Linked DNA regions of Homo sapiens: region 2 is linked to region 1. Evidence: fine-mapped expression QTL. A gene starts in region 1. The other region holds a variant in brackets. All regions are shown on one strand. Distances are from middle to middle. Region 1 holds the start of RNF181 (ring finger protein 181). Region 2 has its middle 6.0 kb from the start of GNLY.

Region 1 (4,528 bases):
ACTAACTTGGTCTGATAATCTCACCCATCCCCCACTCAGAGTCTGGTTTGAACTTTGATTCCTTAGGAGGCATGGGGGGAAGGTGGGGGTGGTACAGAGAGCAACTTTAAAATATTAAAAGTGGCTTTCTCAATGGAGCAAAAAGAAAACCTGTGGGATTACAAAGTTAACTAGACATTGCAGTGGGAGGAGGGTGCAGGCTAGTTTATCAGCTTTTTTTTTTTTTTTTTTTGAGACGGAGTTTTGCTCTTGTTGCCCAGGCTAGAGTGCAATGGCATGATCTCAGCTCACTGCAACTTCTGCCTCCCAGGTTCAAGCAATTCTCCTGCCTCAGCCTCCCAAGTAGCTGGGATTACAGGTGCGTGCCACCATGCCCAGCTAATGTTTGTATTTTTAGTAGAAACGGGGTTTCACCATGTTGGTCAGGAAGGTCTCGAACTCCTGACCTCGTGATCCACCTGTCTTGGCCTCCCAAACTGCTGGCATTACAGACATGAGCCACTGCACCCAGCCTAGTTTATCAGCTTTAAGTAATTAACTGGGTACCAGACCCTGACACATTTTGCCTTCCAACCATGAACACATAGGCCCAAGCCCTGGCTATTGCAGTAATCCAGTTCTTTACCACTGCCATGAGTCCAGATGGGCCAGCAGGGAGGAAAACCGCAGCCTGGTGCCTTCTGCGATTTAGGATCACCTTCCCCAACAGAAGTAGAGACCTGATGGAGGATGCAGAGCCCCTGGCCAGGTCTGTGATCAATACAGCCTCAGGGTGGGTAAAGAAACCTTTAATGAGGATTCAAGGTTAATAAGGAAGACGCAGAGGGCCAGCACTCAGCCCCAACCTCCTCACGTGTACATGGCTCCATGGAGGTTCTCCAGTCGGTGTTGCTGCTGCTGTTTTCGAGCCTGAAGGAAAGAAGGCATGCTGGGCAGGGGCCAAAACTGAAGGCCTATGGGTGAGGGGATGGGCAGCTATTATGGGGCTGGCTCTGTTTTCAGGCCTCTGGCGTCTGCATTGCTGAGGCTCTCACCACAAATCAAAGTCACTAAGAAGACAGCCAGAGCCAGGGATTCTGAGGCCTACCCAGTCCTGCTGAGGTGGGAAGTGATGGCAGCGGGGACAGGACTCAGGGAGCCCATTACGACCCCTCCACTTAAGCATCAGCCCCTACCTTATCTCGTCTGTGCTCCTCATAAGTGTCGTCATCAGTGGGCAGCTCATAGCGGCACAAGGGACAGGAATTTGTCTGAGAAAAGTAGAGTAGTGTTCTAGCCTTGGTCTGATCTTCATAAGCTGATAACCACCCTCCCCTGCTCCCAACTGCCACTCTTCTTCCATCCCCCAGCAGTCCATGAACAGAAAGAAGCTTGAGTACTGGGCCCAGGGCACGGTGAGAGCTAGAAGAAGAGAAGCAGTACCTTGCTTAGCCAGGGCAGAATGCAGCTGGAATGGAAAAGGTGATGGCAAGGCATCTCAATGGCAGTCTCCTCCTCCTCAAATTCCAAAAGACACACGGGGCACTTGAGCTCTTTAGGAAGGAGTGCTGATCAGGAGAGCTGCTACAGGCTCTGCCTCCCAAGCTCCCACTCCTGAAGGACACTTGCCCCCACCTGACCTGGAAAACTGAAGGACCAGACCACAGTCTGGCTTGGGGAAGGGGTGGGTCTGGCCCAAATAGCAGAAAGAATCAGTGTCCTCACCAGCCTGAGAGCCTCTGATGACTGTCCTGGGGAGGTTCTCAACCACAGTCTTGGCAGCTGGTGGAGGCAGGTGGTGGTCCCAATCTACTACCAACCCCAAGTCTTCAAAGTCCATCCTATTGAAAAGTGACCTGGGGAAGGGGATGTAAAGTCAGAACAAAGGAAAACTATGCTTTTTCTTTGTCCCCATAATCCACTGGACATTAATAAACACGCTGCCCAGCTAGTAGGAATAATAGCTACCCTTAGTAGTTAGTAGATGCTCACTAGATAAAAAGCACGATGGGAAATAGTTTACAACTGCTATCAGACCGCCCCAGCACGTAAAGTGTTTATTCCCATTTTACACATGAGGCAACAGATTCAGAGAAGTTACTCAGGCTACGCTGAATAACCTGGTAGAGCCCAGATTCCAAGACCAAGCCAGATTCCAGGTCCAGTAACAGCAGTGCCTGCTGTTACTGATGAATATACCCACTCACAGCACACGGCCCCAACCCCGCCCCCATGCCTCACCTTCTCTGAGACCTCCCAGAGCCTGCTGTCCTTCCGCCCCCACGCCCACCACTCTCCAGCTCCAATCTTTCCCGCAATCCCCTTGCCCCAGGCCGGCCCAACGGACGGCCCAAATTATCGAGATGCTCATCCCCACACCCCTCAGTCTCGCCGCCCGTACTAACACTCCAGATTACTCATCTGTCCTCCCCAGAATCCGCTGCCCCTGGTAATCCGCCTTCTCCAGCCAGCCCCAGCCCAGAAACCTGCTGGTTGGACCCTATCCCCAAGCCCCGCGCACCCACCTTGCGAGCTCCAGCAGCATGTTGGTTCGCGTCTCCTGCTCAGGGTCCGACGGCTCGCAGTCGTGTTCATCGAAATAGGACGCCATGGCTGCCCAGCCTTCTGACACAGCCCTCGGACCCTGCTCGATAGCGGCCTAGCGGCGCTGGCCAATAAACTGACGAGCTGAGAGAGGCTGGCCAATCAGAGTATCCGAGGGACGGGCATAGTGGCTCGTTAAACAGCACGGAAAGCGGAAGTACTAATTCGGCCCCCTCTCATTGGCTTGAACAAGTCAGGTGACCAGAGACTAACGCCAATGATGGAGATCTGGCTGGTGAGGAATCATTTGTTTTGGAGTCGGAGCCAAGACTGAATTCCCGGGGATTTCTGGCGCGATCGCGTCCAAGTGTCTGGTGTGTAAGGCTCTTCAGTCTGCCCTGAAGCTCAGAGGGCTTCGACAGTACAGATGCTAGAGGCCTCTGCGAGCAAAGGCGGCGCTGGCCCAGGGGTTCAGGTTCCTGCGAGCGTTGGCCCATGGCGCTTCCGGATGCGCTGTCCGGATCCCCGCCGGACACTTCTGCCCCCGCGGCCCTCTAGTTGGTTCACCAGTTTGCGTTTGATTCCTGCGCATTTCTTATGTGTTAGGCATAATAATAAAGGGTGGGGCAAGCCTCCCCAACTGAGAGAGATCTCTTTGCCGGAGAACCTGGGGCCTCAACCAGCTCATGGGACTGTTACCTTCAGCCCGTTGCTATCCCTAGCTTCTGTAAAACTGCTGGCTTGTACTAAGACCTTTTCATTCCTGGCTACACATGAATTCCCAGAGGAGAGAATGGGCGCGGAGGAGCTTTAGAAACACCCGTGTCTGATACCTTCGAAGATTCTGATTTAACTGATCTGTGGTGGGGCCTGGGCAATGGCACTTGTATAAATTATGCAGGTGAAGCAGGTTTAAGAACCACTGCACTCAATGATTTGGATGATAGGTACTATTTAGCATCTAGAACTGTTAGTCTGATGTATGTTTTACACGCTCGATCATCCCCTCAATAGACCCAGGAGCTAAGCGTCATTATGCCCTTTTTACCTCAGAAGTGGCTTGCCCAAATTTGCAGTCTGTAAGTGGTGTTGCAGACCAGCTGCAGGGCCAAGTGCTTTCCTCCATCTTTCCCAAGAGAGGAAGACGCTAATGCGCTCAGTAAAACTAACACGCTCTGTAAGGGGTGAAGCTCCACACAACTCAGGCTTATTCTGGTTTCTGTCAGTAGCGCTCACTTTACCCAGCAAGGAACTGCTTATTTTACACACTTGACCCTGAATTCCCCTTGCCACTCACACCTGAGTTTGAACTGCAGCTAAGTAGCCCAGGCAGAGGCTGCCCTGTTTCCACAGTCTTGGTGTGGCTTTATTTCCTTCTTCCATGCCTTTGCCCAATGATCTTTGCTATGGCCCTGAAGGCACTGCCTCCCTGGCCTATATGGCCCTGTAGCTTTGAAAAGCCTGAATTCAGGCTGGACATGGTGGCTCACGCCTGCAATCCCAGCACTAAAGGCAAGAGAATTGCTTGAGCCCAGGAGTTCGAGACCAGCCTCGGCAACATAGACCCCGTCGAAAGAGGGAGGGAGAGAAGACACAGGAGAGACCCCGTCGAAAAAGGAAGGAAGGGAGGGAGGGAGATGGGAATACCAAGGAGTGCTTTAAGGTCCCCATCTCTTGCTGTCACTTCCCCCATCTGCAGTCTGATGTAAAGCTTGAGGTAGATAGAATGTGGAAAGAGAAATTGAGGAGTGGGAAGTGTTCAGAGGGGAAACCATTTATCTGAAGGTGAGAGCCTTATGAAAAATTTTTTGGGCCAGGCGCGGTGGCTCATGCCTGCAATTCTAGCACTTCGGAAGGCCGAGGCAGGTGGATCACCTGAGGTGAAGAGTTCAAGACCAGCTTGGCCAACATGGTGAAACCTTGTCTCTACTAAAAATACAAAAATTAGCCAGGTGTGATGGTGGGCACCTGTAATCCCAGCTACTTGGGAGGCTGAGGCAGGAGA
Region 2 (4,251 bases), 92 kb before region 1:
GTGCTCTACATATACAATGGAATATGATTCAGCCTAAAAAGGGAACACAGTTCTGATACATACTACAACATGAATGAACCTTGAAATAATTATGCCAAGCGAAGTAAGCCAAACACAAAAGGATAAACATTGTATGATTCCACTTACATAAAATTTATAGAATAAACAAATTCATAGGGACAGAAAGTAGATTAGAGGTTACCCAGGGCTGGAAGGAGTGGGAAATGAAGGATTTAGTGCCCACTGGTTAGACTTTCCATTTGGGATGATGAGAATGGTTTTGGAAATCGATAGTTCCAAATAGATGATTCCACAATCTTGTGAGTATAATTAATGCCACTGGATTGTACATTTAAAATGGTTAAAATGGCTAATTTTGTCATTTATTTTTATTAATATTATTTTTAATTGACAAATCATAATTTTATATATTTATGGAGTACAATGTGATGTTTTGATATATGTATACCACTTGGAATGATTAAATCAAGGTAATTAACATATCTATCACCTCCGTTATCATTTTTTGTGGTAAACGTTTTATGTTATATGTATTTTACCACAATAGAAAAAAATTGTTTTAAAAGGTTGTTCAAAGAAAATGAAAAAAGGAAGAATGAATGAATAAATAAATAAATAAATAAAAGATTGTTTGCAGAAGCTTTTTCATAACAGCCAAAAATTAGACATAACCCAAATGTCCATCAACAGGTCAATGGATGAAGAAATTAAGGTAGAGCCATACAATATTATACATAACTACTTGGCAATAAAAAGGAATGAACTACTAATACAAGCAATAAAATGAATAAATCTTTAAAAAAAAAAAAAAAAAAGGAAAAAGAAGCCAGACACGAAAGACTACATTCTGTATGATTCCATTTGTATGAAGTTCTTGAGCAGCAAAATTCATCTATGGCAAAAGAAATCAGAAAAATGGTAGGAGGTGGGAGGAGGATGTGAGGGTTATTGGGCTGGCACAGGGGTATTTTTTTTAGATAGTGAAAGTGTTCTATATCTTAATTAGCTTGTGAATTGCATGAGTGTGCATCTATCAAAACTCTTCAAACTGGACACTTAAGACTTAAGCATTTTGCTAGATGTAAATTATACCTCAATTTAAAAATTATCCAAAAAATTATTATTATTATTATTTTTGAGAGGGAGATTCCCTCTTGTTGCCCAGGCTGGAGTGCAATGGCATGATCTTGGCTCACCGTAGCCTCCGCCTCCAGTATTCAAGCTATTCTCCTGCCTTGGCCTCATGAGTAGCTGGGATTACAGGCGTGTGCCACCATACCTGGCTAATTTTGTATTTTTAGTAGAAACGGGGTTTCTCCATGTTGGTCAGGCTGGTCTAGAACTCCCGACCTCAGGTGATCCGCCCGCCTCAGCCTCCCAAAGTGCTGGGATTACAGGTGTGAGCCACCACGCCCGAACAAAAAAGATTCTTAAGTTACAATTTTATGGCTCCCAATGAACAATATCAAATACTTCCCCAAAGGATTGTACCCATTTACAACATTGCCAACATTGTATGAGAGTTCCCTGCACTCTCACCAGCATTGAATATTGTCACACTCTTTATTTTGCAAATGTAATGAGTGAAACTAACACCTACTTTTATTTCCATTTCAATGACTACAAATTAAGTTTAATATTTTCCCAGGTATTTGTTTACATTTACATTTATTTTGAAATTGTCTTTTTATGTCCCTTGTCCAATATCTACTGGACTCTACTATGTTTTTCAATTTGTAAGACTTCTTTACTAATAAATACATTAATGTTTTGATATATTTGCTACAAATATTTTGTCACTTCTTGATTGACCTTTAAATTTCCATAAGGTTCTTATGCATAGAAAGTTTTCATTTTCTATAATCAAATATGTATATTTATGACATATTTTCTCAGTTTAGAAAGTTGTGATTGCCTCTTTTTCCCTAGAAAATATTTTTTTTGCTAATTTTTACAGTTAGACTTTTTTTAATGTGACACTTCAATCCTCTGGAATTGATTTTAGGGAGGTATGAGGTGGGATGTATTCTTTTCAAAATGCTATTCCCTTAGTGTAAAGGTATTGATTGTATACTTTCCCCTCCTCTCCATTGATCTGAAATGGTTCTTTTATTGTATATTCAATTATATGTAATAGGATCAAATTCTGACCTATCCATTCTGTCTAATTGACCCAAATATCTTGTGTTCTATTAACACCACATTATCTAATCCTGCAGTTTTCTTGATATTTTCCTTTGATATTCCTTTACTTTTAAATTGTACATTGGGTAATATTTTATTTACTATAATACTTTATATGCTAAAAGTATATATAAGGTATAATATTTATATACTAAATATTAAATATCTACTAAATGCTAAATATAAATTATTTTGACCAATAGTATATCAGATTCTAATTTTCACTTTTAATTTTGTTATAACTAAAAACTAATATGGAAAAAATTCACTTCTTTATAGCCACTCTTTCAGCCATGATCATAGTATAACTTTTTTTTTTTTTTTTT[G/TG]AGACAGGTCTGGCTGTGTTGCCCAGGCTGGAGTGCAGTGGTGTGAGTGGTGTGATCTTGGCTCACTGCAACTTCTGCCTCCCAGGTTCAACTGATTCTCCTGCCTCAGCCTCCAGAGCAGCTGGGATTACAGGCGCCCGCCACCACACCTGGCTAATTTTTGTATTTTTAGTAGAGACTGGTTTTCACCATGTTGGCCAGGCTGGTCTTAAACTCCTGGCCTCAAGTGATCTGCCCACCTCGCCCTCCCGAAGTGCTGGGATTACAGGCGTGGCCACCGCGCCCAGCAGATCATAGTATGACTTTCTATTTTTTCCAAGTCATCTTTTTTCTCTCTCAATAAAGTTTTAGGAAGAGTTTTCCAGTGCAGGGGAGCTGAGCATCAGCCAACCCAGGACCCGGACCGTGATGATTCTGGGTGGCCAGGGAGATGGTGGGGGTCAGCGGGGGGCAGGAGACTTCAGAGGGATGTCCAGCTGGGAGCAGATCCCTCTCCGCTTTCTCCCCAGCTTGCGCAAATGACTCAGAGCCTATTCACGTGACATTTTGATATAACAAAACAAAATGCCAGGGACTCAAAATGAGATAATTAAAGGCAGTAAAACAGAAATAAAATAGGGAGATAATCAGCCAAAAAAGACCTATGGGAGAAAGCAGATGATGGGAAATAAAGTGAAGCAGATTTTTTGGTATGTGTTTCACCAGACTTTCTGAAATTTAAAAAATGATGACCCTTTATTTAGAGAACTGCTCTTCTCAGCACCAGTCACAGCAAACAAGCAGTCCCTAGATGTTAACTGTCTGATTGCACTTGGGAAAATATTATTAAATAGCCTCACCCTAAGAATGAGAAGAAAATACACCTGTGAAATTGTATGGAATATTTTTACATTTCACCAGCATCCATCAATCTCGTACTTTTGGTAAACATTTCCATCATCTCCTATTTCAGAAATTCTGTACTTTCAGGCACTAGGTTTACTAAATACCACATCTGCCTATTTACTCAAATGATGTCCTTTACTTAAAGCCTTTTTGCATTATCCAGTTTTCCTGATAGTTTGTATAGATGATTGCCTGAATTTCTCAAAAAGCAAGCTTCCCTTAAGCGTCAAAATTATTTTTATTTCTTTGCAGTAATTTCAATTTACGTTTCAGTCCTTGCTTACATTTTGGGAGACCCAGCTATCTGCCAAAGCCTGAAGGCACAGAAGGTTTATTCTCATCAATGTCCTTTCTACATCAGCATTCAGGGCTAGTGGCTGTCATTTTTCGTGATGATTTTATGGTTTTTATAACCTCTTTGTTACATGATTTTAGGATAACTTTCTATATGAATGAGACTATCCTATATCTTCTTCCCTTTCATCCCATTCTAGATATACTGTGAGTTCTAAAAAATTACACTTGCCCAAACTCACTGTTTTCTTGGTACCTGGTTGTCATTTGTACCACTTCAAGTAATCATCCTTTTTCTTTGTTTTGTTTTGTTTTGTTTTGTTTTTTATTTGAGACGGAGTCTCGCTCTGTCGCCCAGGCTGGAGTGCAGTGGTGCAATCTCCGCCTCCCGGGTTCACGCCATTCTCCTGCCTCAGCCTCCCGAGTAGCTGGGACTACAGGCGCCCGCCACCACGCCCACCTAATTTTTTGTATTTTTAGTGGAGACAGGGTTTCACCGTGTTAGCCAGGAAGGTCTTGATCTCCTGACCTCGTGATCCTC

The links. PIP is the estimated chance that this variant, and not a neighbour inherited with it, causes the effect. A credible set is the group of variants that fine-mapping cannot tell apart.
Region 2: its variant is the best candidate, but not a certain one, in a credible set for the expression of RNF181 in whole blood (INTERVAL, PIP 0.50).

Annotation. Positions count from the first base shown.
Region 1 is chr2:85,593,826-85,598,353 of GRCh38, reverse strand. It overlaps RNF181 (ring finger protein 181), which reads right to left and starts at 2,609. Exons shown (of 5, transcript NM_016494.4): 1 at 2,505-2,609; 2 at 1,705-1,835; 3 at 1,423-1,532; 4 at 1,176-1,250; 5 at 646-909. The coding sequence starts at 2,590. The coding sequence ends at 850. RefSeq lists a silencer at 2,578-2,717.
Region 2 is chr2:85,686,197-85,690,447 of GRCh38, reverse strand. It overlaps the pseudogene GPR160P1. Among named protein-coding and RNA genes, the nearest start is that of GNLY, 6.0 kb to the left of the region's middle. RefSeq lists an enhancer at 2,841-3,343. The variant G/TG (reference allele first, on the strand shown) is at 2,532.